2 separate regions of the Homo sapiens genome follow, and region 1 is linked to region 2. The links come from fine-mapping of genetic effects on gene expression. Tissue or cell type: monocytes. Region 2 holds a variant in brackets; the other region holds the start of a gene. All regions are shown on one strand. Distances are from middle to middle.

What was found. PIP is the estimated chance that this variant, and not a neighbour inherited with it, causes the effect.
Region 1: NDFIP1 starts here. The variant in region 2 is fine-mapped to the expression of NDFIP1 in monocytes (TOPMed, PIP above 0.99). The same link has a PIP of 0.9 or more in whole blood.

What each region holds. Positions count from the first base shown.
Region 1 is chr5:142,105,130-142,112,502 of GRCh38, reverse strand. It overlaps NDFIP1 (Nedd4 family interacting protein 1), which reads right to left and starts at 3,724. Exons shown (of 8, transcript NM_030571.4): 1 at 3,466-3,724. The coding sequence starts at 3,528. RefSeq lists silencers at 3,295-3,364, 3,435-3,564, 3,625-3,894 and an enhancer at 3,472-3,973.
Region 2 is chr5:142,159,868-142,167,240 of GRCh38, reverse strand. The region is part of intron 2 of LOC107986455 (a long non-coding RNA gene); the gene reads left to right. LOC124901096 (a long non-coding RNA gene) reads right to left here and starts at 3,667. Exons shown (of 2, transcript XR_007058978.1): 1 at 3,278-3,667; 2 at 1-3,000. The variant C/TC (reference allele first, on the strand shown) is at 4,587.

The DNA of each region.
Region 1 (7,373 bases), 55 kb after region 2:
CAGTGGCGCGATCCCAGCCTACTGCAAACTCTGCCTCCTGGGTTCAAGTGATTTTCCTGCCTCAGCCTCCCAAGTAGCTGGAGTTACAGATGTGCACCACCACACCGTGCTTTTTTTTTTAAACAGAGTCTTGCTCTGTCGCCAGGCAGGAGTGCAGTGGCACGATCTCAGTTCACTGAAACATCTGCCTCCCAGGTTCAAGCGATTCTCCTGCCTCAGCCTCCTGAGTAGCTGGGACTACAGGTGCACGCCACCACGCCCAGCTAATTTTTGTATTTTTAATAGAGATGGGGTTTCACATGTTGGCCAGGATGGTCTCAATCTCTTGACCTCGTGATCTTTGTGATCTGCCTGCCTTGGCCTCCCAAAGTGCTGGGATTACAGGCATGAGCCACCTTGCCTGGCCATTTTTTGTTTTGTTTTGTTTTGGTTTTTTTTGAGACAGTCCCACTCTGTCACCCAGGCTGGGGTTCAGTGGCACAATCTTGGCTCACTGCAACTTCTGCCTCCCAGGTTCAAGCAATTCTCCTGCCTCAGCCTCCCAAGTAGCTGGGATTACAGGTGAGTGCCACCACACCTGGCTAATTTTTGTATTTTTAGTAGAGGCAAGGTTTTGCCATGTTGGCCAGGCTGGTCTCGAACTCCTGACCTCAAGTGATCCGCCCACCTCGGCCTCCCAAAGTGCTGTGATTACAGGTGTGAGCCACCACACCTGGTTGAGCCTACCCTTTCTGCATAGTCTGTCACTATGCTAAATTCAAGTTGTCCACATATTACACTACCAATAAAAAGACCATAAAGACAAAACTGTGTTTGCATTTATGAATGAATCATACAGTTTTCCATTACATTTACTTGGTGAGAAAACTAGCTCAATTTGATTAACCAGATCAAATAGAAGTCAGAACAGCCCTGTGTGACAACCAAAGAGTATCATGCTCCTATCAAGTTGCCTGGACAATTCACCATCATTCTATAATTCAAAAGCCTTTTAAAAATGCATATTCGCTGACCAGGCATTTCCATGGCTAGTAATTTATGCTAAGGAAACGGTTGAAGACGTATGTGAAATAAATTTCAATGAAAAAAACTGTAAACATTCTTAGTGACCAAAGATAAGCAATTAGTTAAATTATGATTCAGCCATACAATTACATGCCATGCAGACATTAAAAATATTTTATATAGAAGACATTAATAACATTGTGTGAAGAACATTACAAAATAGAATTATGAACCTATTTCATTATTTATCTAGCATGCCTTTGTAGATACATGTGCATGATACACATGTGCAAATGTATGAATGCACATGTCTGAGAACAAGATACACATGGACACGTGCAAAAGTATGTGCAAGTATGATCGGGGCTCATAAAACTGCACACAAATGTACAAAGATATGTCTGTATACGTATATATGGGTACATAAGAGAATACATATGCATGTGTATATATCTGCTAATGCATACACCTATATCTGGACTGTGAGCCTGTGTTTTAAGTAGGTGAGTGTGTGTATATCCTTATAATCACTACTTAGCAGCCTGTGACCTTGAGGCAAGTTACTGAGCCACTTTGAGTCTTTGACAATGAGAACAAACCCTGGTTCATAAGGGTTTGGTATGAATTAAAAGAAAAAAAAAATGGATGTAAATTACTTAATACTGTGATTGTTGCATAAAAAAATCAATATTAGCTTTCCTGCATTCCTTATCTGTACACACATATACTGATCTATAACTATGTATATTTACATAGCTATAAACCCACAAGAATGCACATTAAAATATTACCTTTGGTTATCTATTTGGTTTTTGTTTAGGGAGGGTTTTGCAGTTTTTTGGGCTTTCATCTTTTACAATTTTTCTAGGAAGATTTTTTTCTCTTTTTTTTATACTTCAATTCTGCATAATTAAAAAATATTAAATGCCACACTAAGGAATACATGATTTTGATACTCCAGCAAATTTTTTATATTCTAGCAGTATGTCAGCATTACCTAATAGCTCAAGAAGATGGCAGTACAAAGAAAAACCACAGCTCTTTTGCTCGTTAGCCTTATCCAAGTCAGGATGAAAAGGATGAAATCAGATGACAGTATACAGTAGGGGTGATTTGCAAACACTGTGGTGACAGTTAAGTGGCATCTGTTATTCCCATTTTATTAAAGCAGTAAGGAACCCGCAGGCTGCCCAAGGTCATAGAAAAAAAGCATGTGCTAGATCCATGTGCTCTGAAGAGATCTAAGGATTAACTGCATTGCCACAATTTGGGCCGTGTTTATAAAACCAAGAAGTGAAATTCTTAACTAGTCATTTTGGGAGTCCAAGCCTGAGTGGGGACGGATTGCAACACATGGCTGATGATAGCAAAACAAACCAGTAACCGGCCGGCCGCACCAGGGTTAATCTACGTTTTCATCGTACTGGCTGGCTTTCCTTACTTCTAAAATATAAAATTGTAGATCGTCTAAGATAGGACATTTTATTTGATAAAAGGAGGATTGACATCTGTATGCACCGAAAGCATCTGAAACATGACAAACACAAGCCGTTATTTGCGGTTCCAATCAACATCAGTTTACCACCTGGCTCAATTCCCACCATTACTGTATGTTAGATTAACACTTCCAAAAACCCTGCAGAAGGTCTCTAAATTTCCTGGGGGAACTTAGCTACAGACGCGGAGTGAAACAAGCAGCTCTTTTCCCTGGGGCCTCAATGTATTAAATCAAACCCGAGAAAATGATCCAATCATTTCCTATACATTTCCTCCCCAGCTATGCCATCAAATCTCTTAAAACGTCACTTCCAAGCATTTAAAATACACCCGGCACACGCCCTGCAGACTTCATCGTAGCTCTCCCTTTTGGGGCATCACCACAGCCAAACATCGCCTCTTCCAAATCTACTGCAAACTGCGGGCTTGTCTCTTGCTTCATTTTTTACTTTTGTCTTAAAACGGAGGCGAGGGGGATGGGTTTCGACAAACTAGGCTCTGAAACCCTGAGCAATAGCATCTTGCTGTGGGGAGCTATCGGCAGCAGCAGAGATTTTAATCTTTTCTCTCCACCCAGTTTCCGTTTCATGCTTTTTTCTTTCTTTCTTTTCCAATGACATCAAACCAAAGGTGGAAAAATGAAAAACGAATGCCTCAGATCGATGCCGCCTGTGGGTCGCGGGTTCTGACTCAGGGACCCGCCCGCCCTGGGAAATGCGGGAAACGAGGCCGGGAGGAGGACTTTCCACCGCCGGAGTCCCACCTGGGGTCGCAGACGGGCAGGCCGGGCCCGTGGCAGCCTCGAATCCGAGCCCGGGGCCCGACCCGCCCCTCCAGGCCCAGCGCGGCCTGCCAAGCCCCGGCGTCGAGTTGGCCGCGGGCCGGCCAGAGAGGCCTGAGGCGGCCAGCGGGCAGGGCAGAGCCAGGGACCGGAGTTCGGGGCTGGAGTCGGGCGCCGCTTACCTGCTGGTACCGGCTGCCGCAGGCCGGCTCGACCGCCGCCAGCGCCGCCAACGCCAACGCCATGGCGCAGCCGGCAGCAGGGAAGCAGAGCGAGCGAGCGAGCTAGCTGAAGGGGCGCGGCCGCTGCGGCTTGGGAGCGCTGGGAGGCCGAGGGGGACGCGCCTTGGGTGGGTCTCGATGGCCGCCGCCGCTCCCGGGCGAGACGCTCTTCTCAGGCTGTAAGCACCGCCGCCGCCGCCGAGGCTCCGACGCGGCCCCTGGGGAAGAGGCGGGGACTACGACGACGGCGCTGCGCCGCCGCCCCACCCCCGACTCGCGCCGCCCTGCCCGGCCCGGCCCGGCCTAGCCTAGTCCTGCGCCGCCGCCCCGAGGTGCACCGGCCCTGGTGTAGTTGCTCCGACGACCTGAGCCTCCGAGGCTCAAGTGTTGTATTCGATTCCACTAAAAACGAATTACTAACAGGCCAGCCCAAAGCAAGGGCGATGCTGCTGATGAGCACCTCGTGCCAAGCACTGAGCTTCACCTACGTGCCCTCATCCAGCCTTCAGCACAACCGCCCTGACGCAGGGACCACAACCCCATTCTCGAGGTCGTTGGCAACCAGAGAGGTTGACAATCTTCACAGCAGCGACCTGATCCCTCGTGTCTGGCAGCAGAATCGTGGTTCTTATTCACTCCCTTCTTTTATCTGCCGTACTCATAAACCAGGGGTCAGCCAGCGACAGGGAGGGGGCCAAATCCGGTCTGCCACCATGACTGTGAAAAGTACATGAAATTCAAGTTTCAGTGTCCATAAATAAAGTTTTATTGGAACACAGCAGCACCCATTTGTTTGGTATGGCCTGCAAACCCTATAATACTTGCTATCTGACATTTTACAGAAAAAGTTTGCTAACCCTAAATCCTTGAGAACTGCTTGGATCTCAAATCCTACTTAGGGTGGATGATTATAATAGCATCCTCATGTTTATGCCATCCTTTAGTATTTTAACAGCCTCATCTGCGGAATCGGAAACAATATTTTCCAAAAAAGCTCCCTGACTCGGTGACATGAAGTCAAAACTTGAAGGGTTTGGCCATGCTAAAGGCTTTCCCGACCACAGGAACAGGTGCAAAGGGCGGTCCAGAGAGAGATTGTCTTGTGGAAGAACAGAAAGGAGGCTGGCATAGCTGCCATATAGGAGATACAATTATCAGTGTTTCACAGATGAGGAAGTTATGCCCAAAGAAATTAAATATCTCACCCAATGACACAGAGCTACTAAGGGGTGAAGCTGGAATACAACTCCATTAAGCCAGCTTTCTTACCCAGTATTGCACAACTAAATTATAAGCTTTGTGAAGACAAGAGTATTTGTCTTTTAAATCTTATTACCTCCCAATGCCATGTAGCACAGTATAGCTATATAGCAGGCTTGCAAGGTCTGTTTCTTTCACACCCAGCCATCTGCAATTGCTTCTACCCACATGTCCTACAGAGAAAAACAAAATCTTCCATCTCTGAAGCTTGTTGCAATTCCCATTTCTTCTTCATTGCCTTTCCAAGTTGGCAGTGTAGAGGTTATATTAATATGATTATTGTCTTAGCTTCTAATTTTGAAGTTTAGTTAATTATGTATTTTAAAAGAGAACTGTGTTTAGAACACACCCTGAGGTTTCTGTATATATGAGAAAATTGTAATCAATAAAAACTCTAGATGTTTACCATCTTCACTTTGAGTTCTCTCTCAGCATCCAAACTCCTCTATATCTGTCGCTATTTCCAAGTATTAGTCTCACATATTAACATGCTGGGAGAGCGAACAAATGTAGCAACATTCCAAGCTCTCAAGTCTATTTAGAGCCTCCTTACTCTGTCCCTCAGTTGTTGTTTATAATCCAGAAAAACAACATTTAAATGTAATCAGGTACAGTGAATCAAACATAATGTCCTGCCATGTAGTCTTGTATAAAGGGTGCAAAAATCTAATTTGAAATTTTTTAAAATGTCAGCAGTGGAAAGTAGAAATCCAGACTTCTTTGTCCAGATTGTCTACATTTACGTGTAAGAAAGAATAAAAAAGAATGTCCACTGGGCACAGTGGCTCACATCTGTAATCTCAGCACTTTGAGAGCCTGAGACTCGAGGATCACGTGAGCCCAGGAGCCAGGAGTTCGAGACCAACCTGGGCAACATAGTGAGACACAATCTCTGAAAAAAAAAAAGAAAAAGAAAAAAGAATTTGTCGGCCTACCACATAAGGCTATTGGAGCAACAACTGCAATCTTTATGCATGTCTGCAGTGCTGTGGCTTTTGTGGAAAAGATGTTGCTACCCTTCTATTTCTTTCCTAAATTACTTTCTCCCTCAATATCTATATACTCCCTGCATGTGGACACAAATATTTATCATAATATAAATAACAGGCTTTATCATAGAAATATTTTGCATTGAAAGTAAAAGAAAATTGATCTCCAACTTCTAATCTCCTTTTCCTATGTCCTCAACCAAAATGTTTTGTAGTCACGGTAAAGATTTTGGTCTTTTTTTTCTTGAGTTCCCCAAAGCCTCTAATAAGTAAATTGAGATTATTTGCCTTGATTTGATGGGTGGATAAATTGGAGAATTGAGAAATTGAGTCACTGCTATATTAGGCCTCCAGCTGGCAGGCAAATTGTACAACGAAGGGGAAAACTGAATTTCTGGCTCACAGATCCATGCCTGGTGCAAGCCAAGCAGACAGAGAAGATAATCCAAAGCCATAAAAATTGTGCTCTTTGGCTTCATCTCGAGATGTTGTCAAGAGAGTTTCCACAGAGAAAGTTATTAATTTCAGATTGCTGCACTTAGAAACTTATTTCCCCACAGAATAACAGTAATACTTTCCATGTGCAGTACTGCATATGTGAATTGCTGACTCTGAATCATCCCTCCTGAGAGAGAAAAGAAACATGGACAAGTATAAGCATAACTCATGTCCGTATCCCTTTCCCCCTGCAATATAGATACAAATCTCTAGGATAAATGTGACCTTCTGTCTTTCATATCCACATGAGGCTTGACCTAGGTAGTGCAGAGCTCAGTAAGTAACCAAGAAGGGTTTGTTAAATGTGTTAAATTTAGACAAAAGCCTCATTAGTCTAATATCTCATTTGAGGCCTTGAACTTCTCCAGCTAGTCTTCACAGGGCTCCAATTAAACCATGAAGTTTTATTTCTATGACTTACTACTTCTTTTAATTCTCACTACATTACCACAAGGTTCATTAAGAGCAAAAGGTAATATCTTCATATTACAAATAAAGAAATTATCCACTGATAATTACTACTGTTATGGAGCACTTCCAGAATCTTGGACCTGATGGTACATCATCTGCTTAATCTTCATAACAAACCCATTCTGCAGATTCTTGAAGAGACTCAGGAAATTTACATAACCTACTCAGCTTTGTGAGCGGTGGAGTCGAAACGCAAACTGGGATTTGTCTGGCTCCAAAATGTATGCACTGCTTTGGGTGTGGAGAGAAATACGGGACATAAATAGACAGGAGATAGAAAGTTCTAACCTTTGGAGTCTTCATGATGAAATAGAGATGATAGTAAACACTTATTTGAGACATTTTTAAAATATAAAACTTACAAGTTATTTACAACTGTGTTGAGCTATATTAACTAATGCTGAGAGATAGTGAAGAGAATTATGTGGCCAGCTGGGATAATCAGGTAAGGATTGGGAAGAAAGGGTTTTGAACGAGAAAAGGGCTTTGTTGGCCAGGTGTGGTGGCTCACGCCTGTAATCCCAGCACTTTGGGAGGCCGAGGCGGGAGGATCACCTGAGGTTGGGAGTTGGAGACCAGCCTGACCATCATGGAGAAACCCCATCTCTACTAAAAATACAAAAAACTTAGCCGGGCGTGGTGGTACATGCC
Region 2 (7,373 bases):
AAAATGCCAAAGACAGCCTTCCACAGTGCTAACAGACATGGAATCAGAAAGTTGAAGTTCCGATCATAGCTCTATCATTTACTTAGCTCTGTGATCATGGGCAAATTATAACTCTTTTAGAAATAAAAATTCCTATCTCATAAGATTTTCTGAGAATTAAATGTGATAACATTTATAAAGCATTTAGCACAGCACCTGGCATATAGCAAGTGCTTAGAAAGTAGGAGTGATTATAATTGCAAAGGCCTCATTTCTAAAGTAGGCTACCCATGTATCTGCCCTGAAGATTACCCTCAAAGAAGATGCAGCCCGAATAGTACAAGAACATTTAGTCCTTTGATTCATAGGTCAGCTGCCAGAGAAATATGCACGCAGACGCATTTGCAAACCCCAAAATTGCATACAATTTTAAGACATTAACAGGCCCCCAATTGACACCTCCTTTAACCATAACCCGCACTGACTATACACCTGGTAAACTAAGATGGAAAACCAGGGTAACAAGAGGTATCTCCAACTACTTCCACCATAGGGAGGCCTGGACTCATCCCACCTTCCGGGTGCATTCCTAAGACTGACTGGTTCTCTTTGGGTGCCTCTTAGTACACAGGCTATCACAGCTTTATTCTCTATGTGGGCAGAATGCAAATAAGGTCTTGAGGGCCCCCCCGACACCCTCATCCCCAGTAACTGGCTTGTTCTCCCTGCCCTGGCTCAGCGTAGTACAGCCCAACCTTGCAATTTAACTCAGTGCTGATGGAGTTGGGTAAACTGAAGTGCCTAGCAAATGTACGTGGAAAACCATGGTCCCTGATAAGCTGCTGATACGGTGTGCTTGTGCTTCCGCCAGTTCTATTTAAACACTGATAGGCCCTTGGGCAAACAAGAAGCCTTTTGTGCTCTGAGCATCCACAACTGCCATCCTGAGCCCAATCTGGACATGAGCAAGCCTCACAGTGGGTGGAAGTGAGGGTGGGGAAGAGACAAACTTTTCCTGCATTTTATCAGATACATGCACACAGGCAAGACCAAGCTGATCTTCAAACCTGGGGGCCCCAATCTTTCCCCACACTCCCTACCCTACCTCACAGTGATCTCTTAACAATGGAGATTTAGAAAAATTTTTCTTTTTCTTTTTTTTTTTTTTTTGAGTCGGAGTCTGGCTCTGTCGCCCAGGCTGGAGTGCAGTGGCACAATCTCGGCTCACTGCAAGCTCTGCCTGCCGGGTTCAGGCCATTCTTCTGCTTCAGCATCCTGAGTAGCTGGGACTACAGGCTCCCGCCACTACGCCCGGCTAATTTTTTTTGTATTTTTAGTAGAGACGGGGTTTCACCGTGTTAGCCAGGATGGTCTTGATCTCCTGACCTCGTGATCCACCCACCTCTGCCTCCCAAAGTGCTGGGATTACAGGCGTGAGCCACCGCGCCCGGCCTAGAAAAAATTTTCTAGAAAATGCACTGTAGTGTTTGTAAAGTTCTACTTTTTTTTTTTTTTTTTTGAGATGGAGTCTCACTTTGGAGTGCAGCAGTGTGATCTCTACTCACTGCGAACTCTACCTCCTGGGTTCAAGTTTCTCCTGCCTGAGCTTCCCAAGTAGCTGGGACTACAAACGTGTGCCACCATGCCCAACTAATTTTTGTATTTTTAGTAGAGATGGGGTTTCACCATGTTGGCCGGGCTGGTTTCGAACTCCTGACCTCAGGTGATCTGCCCACCTCGGCCTCCCAAAGTGCTGGGATTACAGATGTGAGCCATCAGGCCCAGGCTGTAAAGTTGTACTTTTGAATTTAATTTTTTTTTCTTGAATATTAATGTGGATTAGAGACTTGCTCATGAAAATTTGATTCTGGCCAGGCAGTTTGGTCATCACCTGGGAAGTTTTTACAAATGCAGAATCACAAGCCCCAGCCTAGACCTCCTAAACTATTACCTGCATTTTATTAAGCTTCCCAGGTAGTTTGTAGGCATATTAAAGTGTGAGAAGGACTAGATTCGAGCATTTATGTATAAGGCTACTAGAAAGGTATATTGATAACAGTAAATGATTATAGCTTCCTTTCAGATTTGCAACAGATTTTGATCTAAATATTGAGTATAAAAAATAAAAGTTAAATTTAAAGGATGAGACTGATAACAATCATAACTTCTCAAATCTAAATGAATATTTCCTGCAGATAAGTCAATATATATGACCTCAACTGGGCAGCTTTACTCACTCTTCTCTAACATAAAGACACGCTCTTCCCATGAAGGTTCACATCTGTATACATTACAATTGCTGGCATTTTAAGAGGCTAATGAAACACTCTATTTTGCGCTATTGACAGAAGGCAGATTTCTAAAAATCAGAGTTAAGATGTTCCATAATAAACACGGGTTAACTTTGTAAAATAAAAAGGGGTGGGGGCAGGGATGATGGTAGGGGGAGAAGTATTGGTTAGTGGTCAAGAATGCCTTGATTTGGATTCTTGCTCCGTCCACCGGGTGACCTGACCTCTCTGGGAGCCAGCTCCTTTAGTGTAAAATAGGGATAATAGCGCTGTTGCTGTTCAATTCTGGAGGGTTAAAAGATTCTGCGTGAAAAGGACTGTAGCAGCACTTGAACACAATAAATGTTGAATAAATGTAAGCTATTAATATGAAATTAGAATTGAAATCCTGTCTCGAGATACCATTTTGCTTAATTGAGAGAACTTGTCATGTCTCTGTCCAGCACTTGATCTGACTCTTAGCTAGAAAGGTTCATACTATCAGCTGTGCCTATCTCACTGGCTTAGAGAAAGGATAAAAAAAAACCCTGCAGTACAAGCTGGGGGTGGCGGTGGGGGCACTGAAGCCACGCTCCAGGTGAGGTGGGGAGGCACACTGATGGAGGGGTATGAGCCCACTTCATGGGGAACATGCACAAAGAAGAAAACATCTCAGGCTGCTGTGGGAGGGCAGATGTCCTGTGCCTGCAGTCCAGAATCCCCCTCATTCCCACCTTCAATAAAGGGAATCCTGTGGGAAGAGAAAGGAATGTGTTAAAGTGTAGATCAAGAAGGGACAGGAGAATAAAAAGAAATGGAAGCAGGTGCACACACAGGAAAGATGATGAGTGTTCTATTGTTGTTAAAGAGTTCATGCTCTAACAACACAAACCAAATTAATCCCAGCCTCCCCACTTAAGGACGGTAAGGGGCAAGTCAGTTAACATGAGTCTCCATTTTTTTAAAAATATACAACAAGGATCACAGTATTCCCTACCTCAAAGGGTTGGGGAGATGATTAAATCTACCTGTGAAGAAGAAAGCAGAGTACTTCGCACATGATAAATGCTCAATAAATGGTATTCATTACTATCCATCTATGATACGCATCTGCAACACAAAAATACACATGTTTACTGTAGGTTTAATCCCAGGGTCAAGGAATTTGATGTGAACTTCCAATCAACAGAGAAACCAGGTCTCTTCTGGATGCCCTATGGATGAAAGAAGACCAAGGGTATAGGACGCCTTTGTCATAATTGTTGCAACAGTCTAATTATTCCTCTTGGCAATGAAGCAATGGAAAAAAGAGGTATTAGAAGTTGGCTTTAAAAACACCATCATCGGCTGGGCGCGGTGGCTCAAGCCTGTAATCCTAGCACTTTGGGACGCCGAGGCGGGCGGATCACGAGGTCAGGAGATTGAGACCACGGTGAAACCCCGTCTCTACTAAAAATACAAAAAATTAGCCGAGTGTGGTAGCGGGCGCCTGTAGTCCCAGCTACTCAGGAGGCTGAGGCAGGAGAATGGCGTGAACTCGGGAGGCGGAGCTTGCAGTGAGCCGAGATTGCGCCACTGCACTCCAGCCTGGACGACAGAGCGAAACTCCTTCTCAAAAAAAAAAAAAAAAAAAATCATCGAGGCCAGTTGTGGTGGCTCACACCTGTAATCCCAGCACTTGGGGAGGCCGAGGAGGGCGGATCGCTTGAGGTCAGGAGTTCGAGACCAACCTGGCCAAAATGGTGAAGCTCCGTCTCTACTAAACATATAAAAATTAGCCGAGTGTGGTGACGGGCGCCTATAATCCCAGCTACACGGGAGACTGAGGCAGAAGAATCACTTGAACCAGGGAAGTGGAGGTTGCAGTGAGCCGAGAAGGCACCATTGCATTCCAGCCTGGGCAACAAGAGTGAAACTCAGTCTCAAAAAACAAAAACAAAAACATCATGGGGCATTTGTCAGAACGAGCTGAAAAGCAGAAAAAGACAAGATAATCTACACTGCAGCAAAGACTATTTAAAAAATTTAACATCTGATATAAACAGAATGGCTTAAGAGACCTCATCTCACTGGGCTGTGCCAGTATGCTAGTACTACCTATGTAAAAATAATAAATTCACAAAAACAAGTCTGAAAAAGAACAAACAGTTGATTTTTGGAGATAGTAGGCTTAGAAAGTGACTTTTTAGATGTGCTCATAAGTTTTGCAAAATCAGGGCATTTTGAAACCCCTGTAAGATTGACGGAGGAAAAAAAATGTATAACGGTCTAACAGTTTTAGGCAAAGTAAGAGATGAGTGTTTACTTAGGGCAGTGGTTTTCAAGCCATTTTTTTTT[C/TC]AGCTGCAGAACCCTTTTTGTAAAACAAAATCTGAGATCCCAAATACTCTGAGTAAATTTATTTATATATTGTTTTAGTATTTGTTCATGTCTGTAAATGAGATCACAAATAACCACACAATTGAACACATATTTGAAAATACATCTTATTACATGATTAAGGCTGTTTTTAAAAGATAAAATTCCAATTAAAAGTTTATAGAATCCTAGTGTTTTGTGGAAGGTAATTCAGAAGCATCAGAAGGATTATGAAATTTGGGACTAGCCAGGTGCTTCTCCATGGAGGCCCGAGAGTTGTCATAGATTCATGCAGATGCCATTGGAGGTGATCTATATAGTGAGAGAGAACAAAGAGCAGAGGACACCCCAATGCTTTCTGTTTAATGGCCAAGCCAAACTAGTACTGAAGGGGCATGAAGAGGTGAGCCTGTGAACACTGTGACAAATGCCACCACTGTGAAAAGCTCCCCAGATCCCCCAATAAAGGGGAAAACAGGCAGGCCCTATCTGGGCAGGCTTGGATTGGCAGGACTGGGTTGGGGGGCACAGACACAGGCTGGAACCATCTATCCAGGGGCATACAGGAACGTTCCTTGGAGAGCTTCAGGAAGAGAAAGCAGGCATGTGGTTTTCTTGTTGGATGCGGCTAGATGGAATGGGAAGATAGAAAGCAACTAGGGTTAGGCCGGGCGCGGTAGCTCACGCCTGTAATCCTAGCACTTTGGGAGGCCAAGGCGGGCAGATCACCTGAGGTCAGGAGTTCGAGACCAGCCTCACCAACATGGTGAAACCCCCATCTCTACTAAAAATACAAAAGTTAGCCGGGCACGGTGGCAGGCGCCTGTAATCCCAGCTACTCGGGAGGCTGAGGCAGGAGAACCACGTGAACCCAGGAGTCGGAGGTTGCAGTGAGTCAAGATCACGCCATTGCACTCCAGCCTGGGGACAAGAGTGAGACTTCGTCTCAAAACAAACAAACCAAAAAACCAAAACAAAACAAAAAAAAGAAGTAACTAGGGTTCAAATGGCCCAGGGTTAAGATTTGGAGAAAGGAAAGGGAGAGCGGCCACTGAGAAAATGGCCCTATCTACAGTTGTGTAGGAATTTAGGACAGAGAAGTAACAAGAGTGATCTAAGCAGCACTGGAAACGTAGGGGAAGGGGGAGGTGTCGAGAGGGCGGCAAAGAAGACATGGAAAGGGCAGGGAAAAGAGCAGAGAATGTAAGGCCAGTGCAGAAAGAAACAAAGCAAAGGATAAGAAGTTCAAAGGCTGCTTCGAATACCTAAATCCATACAAAGATAGTATACGGCAAGTCTTGTAATGTAATACAAATGGACTAAGCAAAAAAGAGGCCAGAGTTTCAGCCTATAGAACTCAGGAAAGGAAATGAGAATCAAAGTTTATTGAATCTGTAGAGTGTTTTGATGTTAGTGAGTGTTGGAAAATTATTTGCCGGGGGAGGGAGGCTTTGGTTGCTTGGTGGTAAAGAACGCAAAATAATCCCTTTTATAGTAATCTGTGAAGATCAAATGAACATGTATATAAGTTCCCACATAAACATATGATAATATTACCAGAAAAGCAATAGTAAATCATATTCTCATCTGGGCTGCAGGAATTTAGGAGGATAAGAATGATCTGATTTATCAGGGATGGCCTAATGACATTTAGGAAAGAAGGAATGAGGAAAGGCAGGGTTTATGAGAGCTATACGGTCCTGAAAAGGAAATGAATTCCCTCGGTTTGAATTATAGGTTTGGGCTTTTCATGTCCTGCCCTTAGACCCAATACTATAGCTGATCAGCTGTGAAGAGCTGTTTGCTAGATGCTGGGCACTTTACCTCCCTAAAAATGGCCCTGTGAGAAAATATTCCAGCACACAGATTAGAAAACCAAAGCTTGGATAGGACATGCAAATGACCCAAGATTACACAGCCAGTAAATGGGGAGCGAGGGCTCAAGCCCTAGGCTAACAGTCACAAGTCCCCTTGGCAGCTGGTTTTCTAGGTCCTGGCCACATAGCACCCTGAGATGTTCCCCCATCCTTTTGGCCCTTTTGGGGGTGGCCTCTTCAAGTGGCAGTAATCTCTCCTTTGAGGGCATTTGGTTTTACGAACATCTTTAAAAGTGCCCTTCTGGTGAAAATTAAGTTAGCAGCAAGCTTGAAAAGTGTAAAAAGCTTCTTCCATCACTATGCAAACGAAGCAGAAAAACATTACATATTAAGATTTCTTGGACAGGAAAGCACTTTGTCTCCTACCAATCTCCTCCCAGACTAAAACCTCCTTGTGTTCAGGGGCTGTCTTGTACAAATCTTTGTATATACTACATCCAGCATAAAGTCATGTATGTCATAACTGGCTAATAAGATAGTTTTTATCAAATAAAGGCCCAAAGCAACTATATGCAAGAAGGCAGAGCACAATTATTTATAATACATAAAAACTGTATTTTTCAAAGTAGATCATCACTTCTAACACAGGTGATTATACAAATTCCATCTGCAATTCTTTCTGAGGGGAATAAACCACTATGGATGGAGGCAAAGCCAAGGACACATAGAATTTGAAGATGGAGGGAACGTTTTCTTGGCTTCTCTTCAGTTGTCTGATGTCACCAAAGAAGTGGGTTGGCTTGGATAAACTTATGACCTCTGTTTGGCCCTGTGTTCCTAAAAATTTTATGGGAAGGTCACTAATAAACTAAGTGTGTAAATGCTCCGCCATCTAGTTAAAAAATAATAACTGCTACTGGAGCTGACTTATACTACATATTTTCTGCAAAAC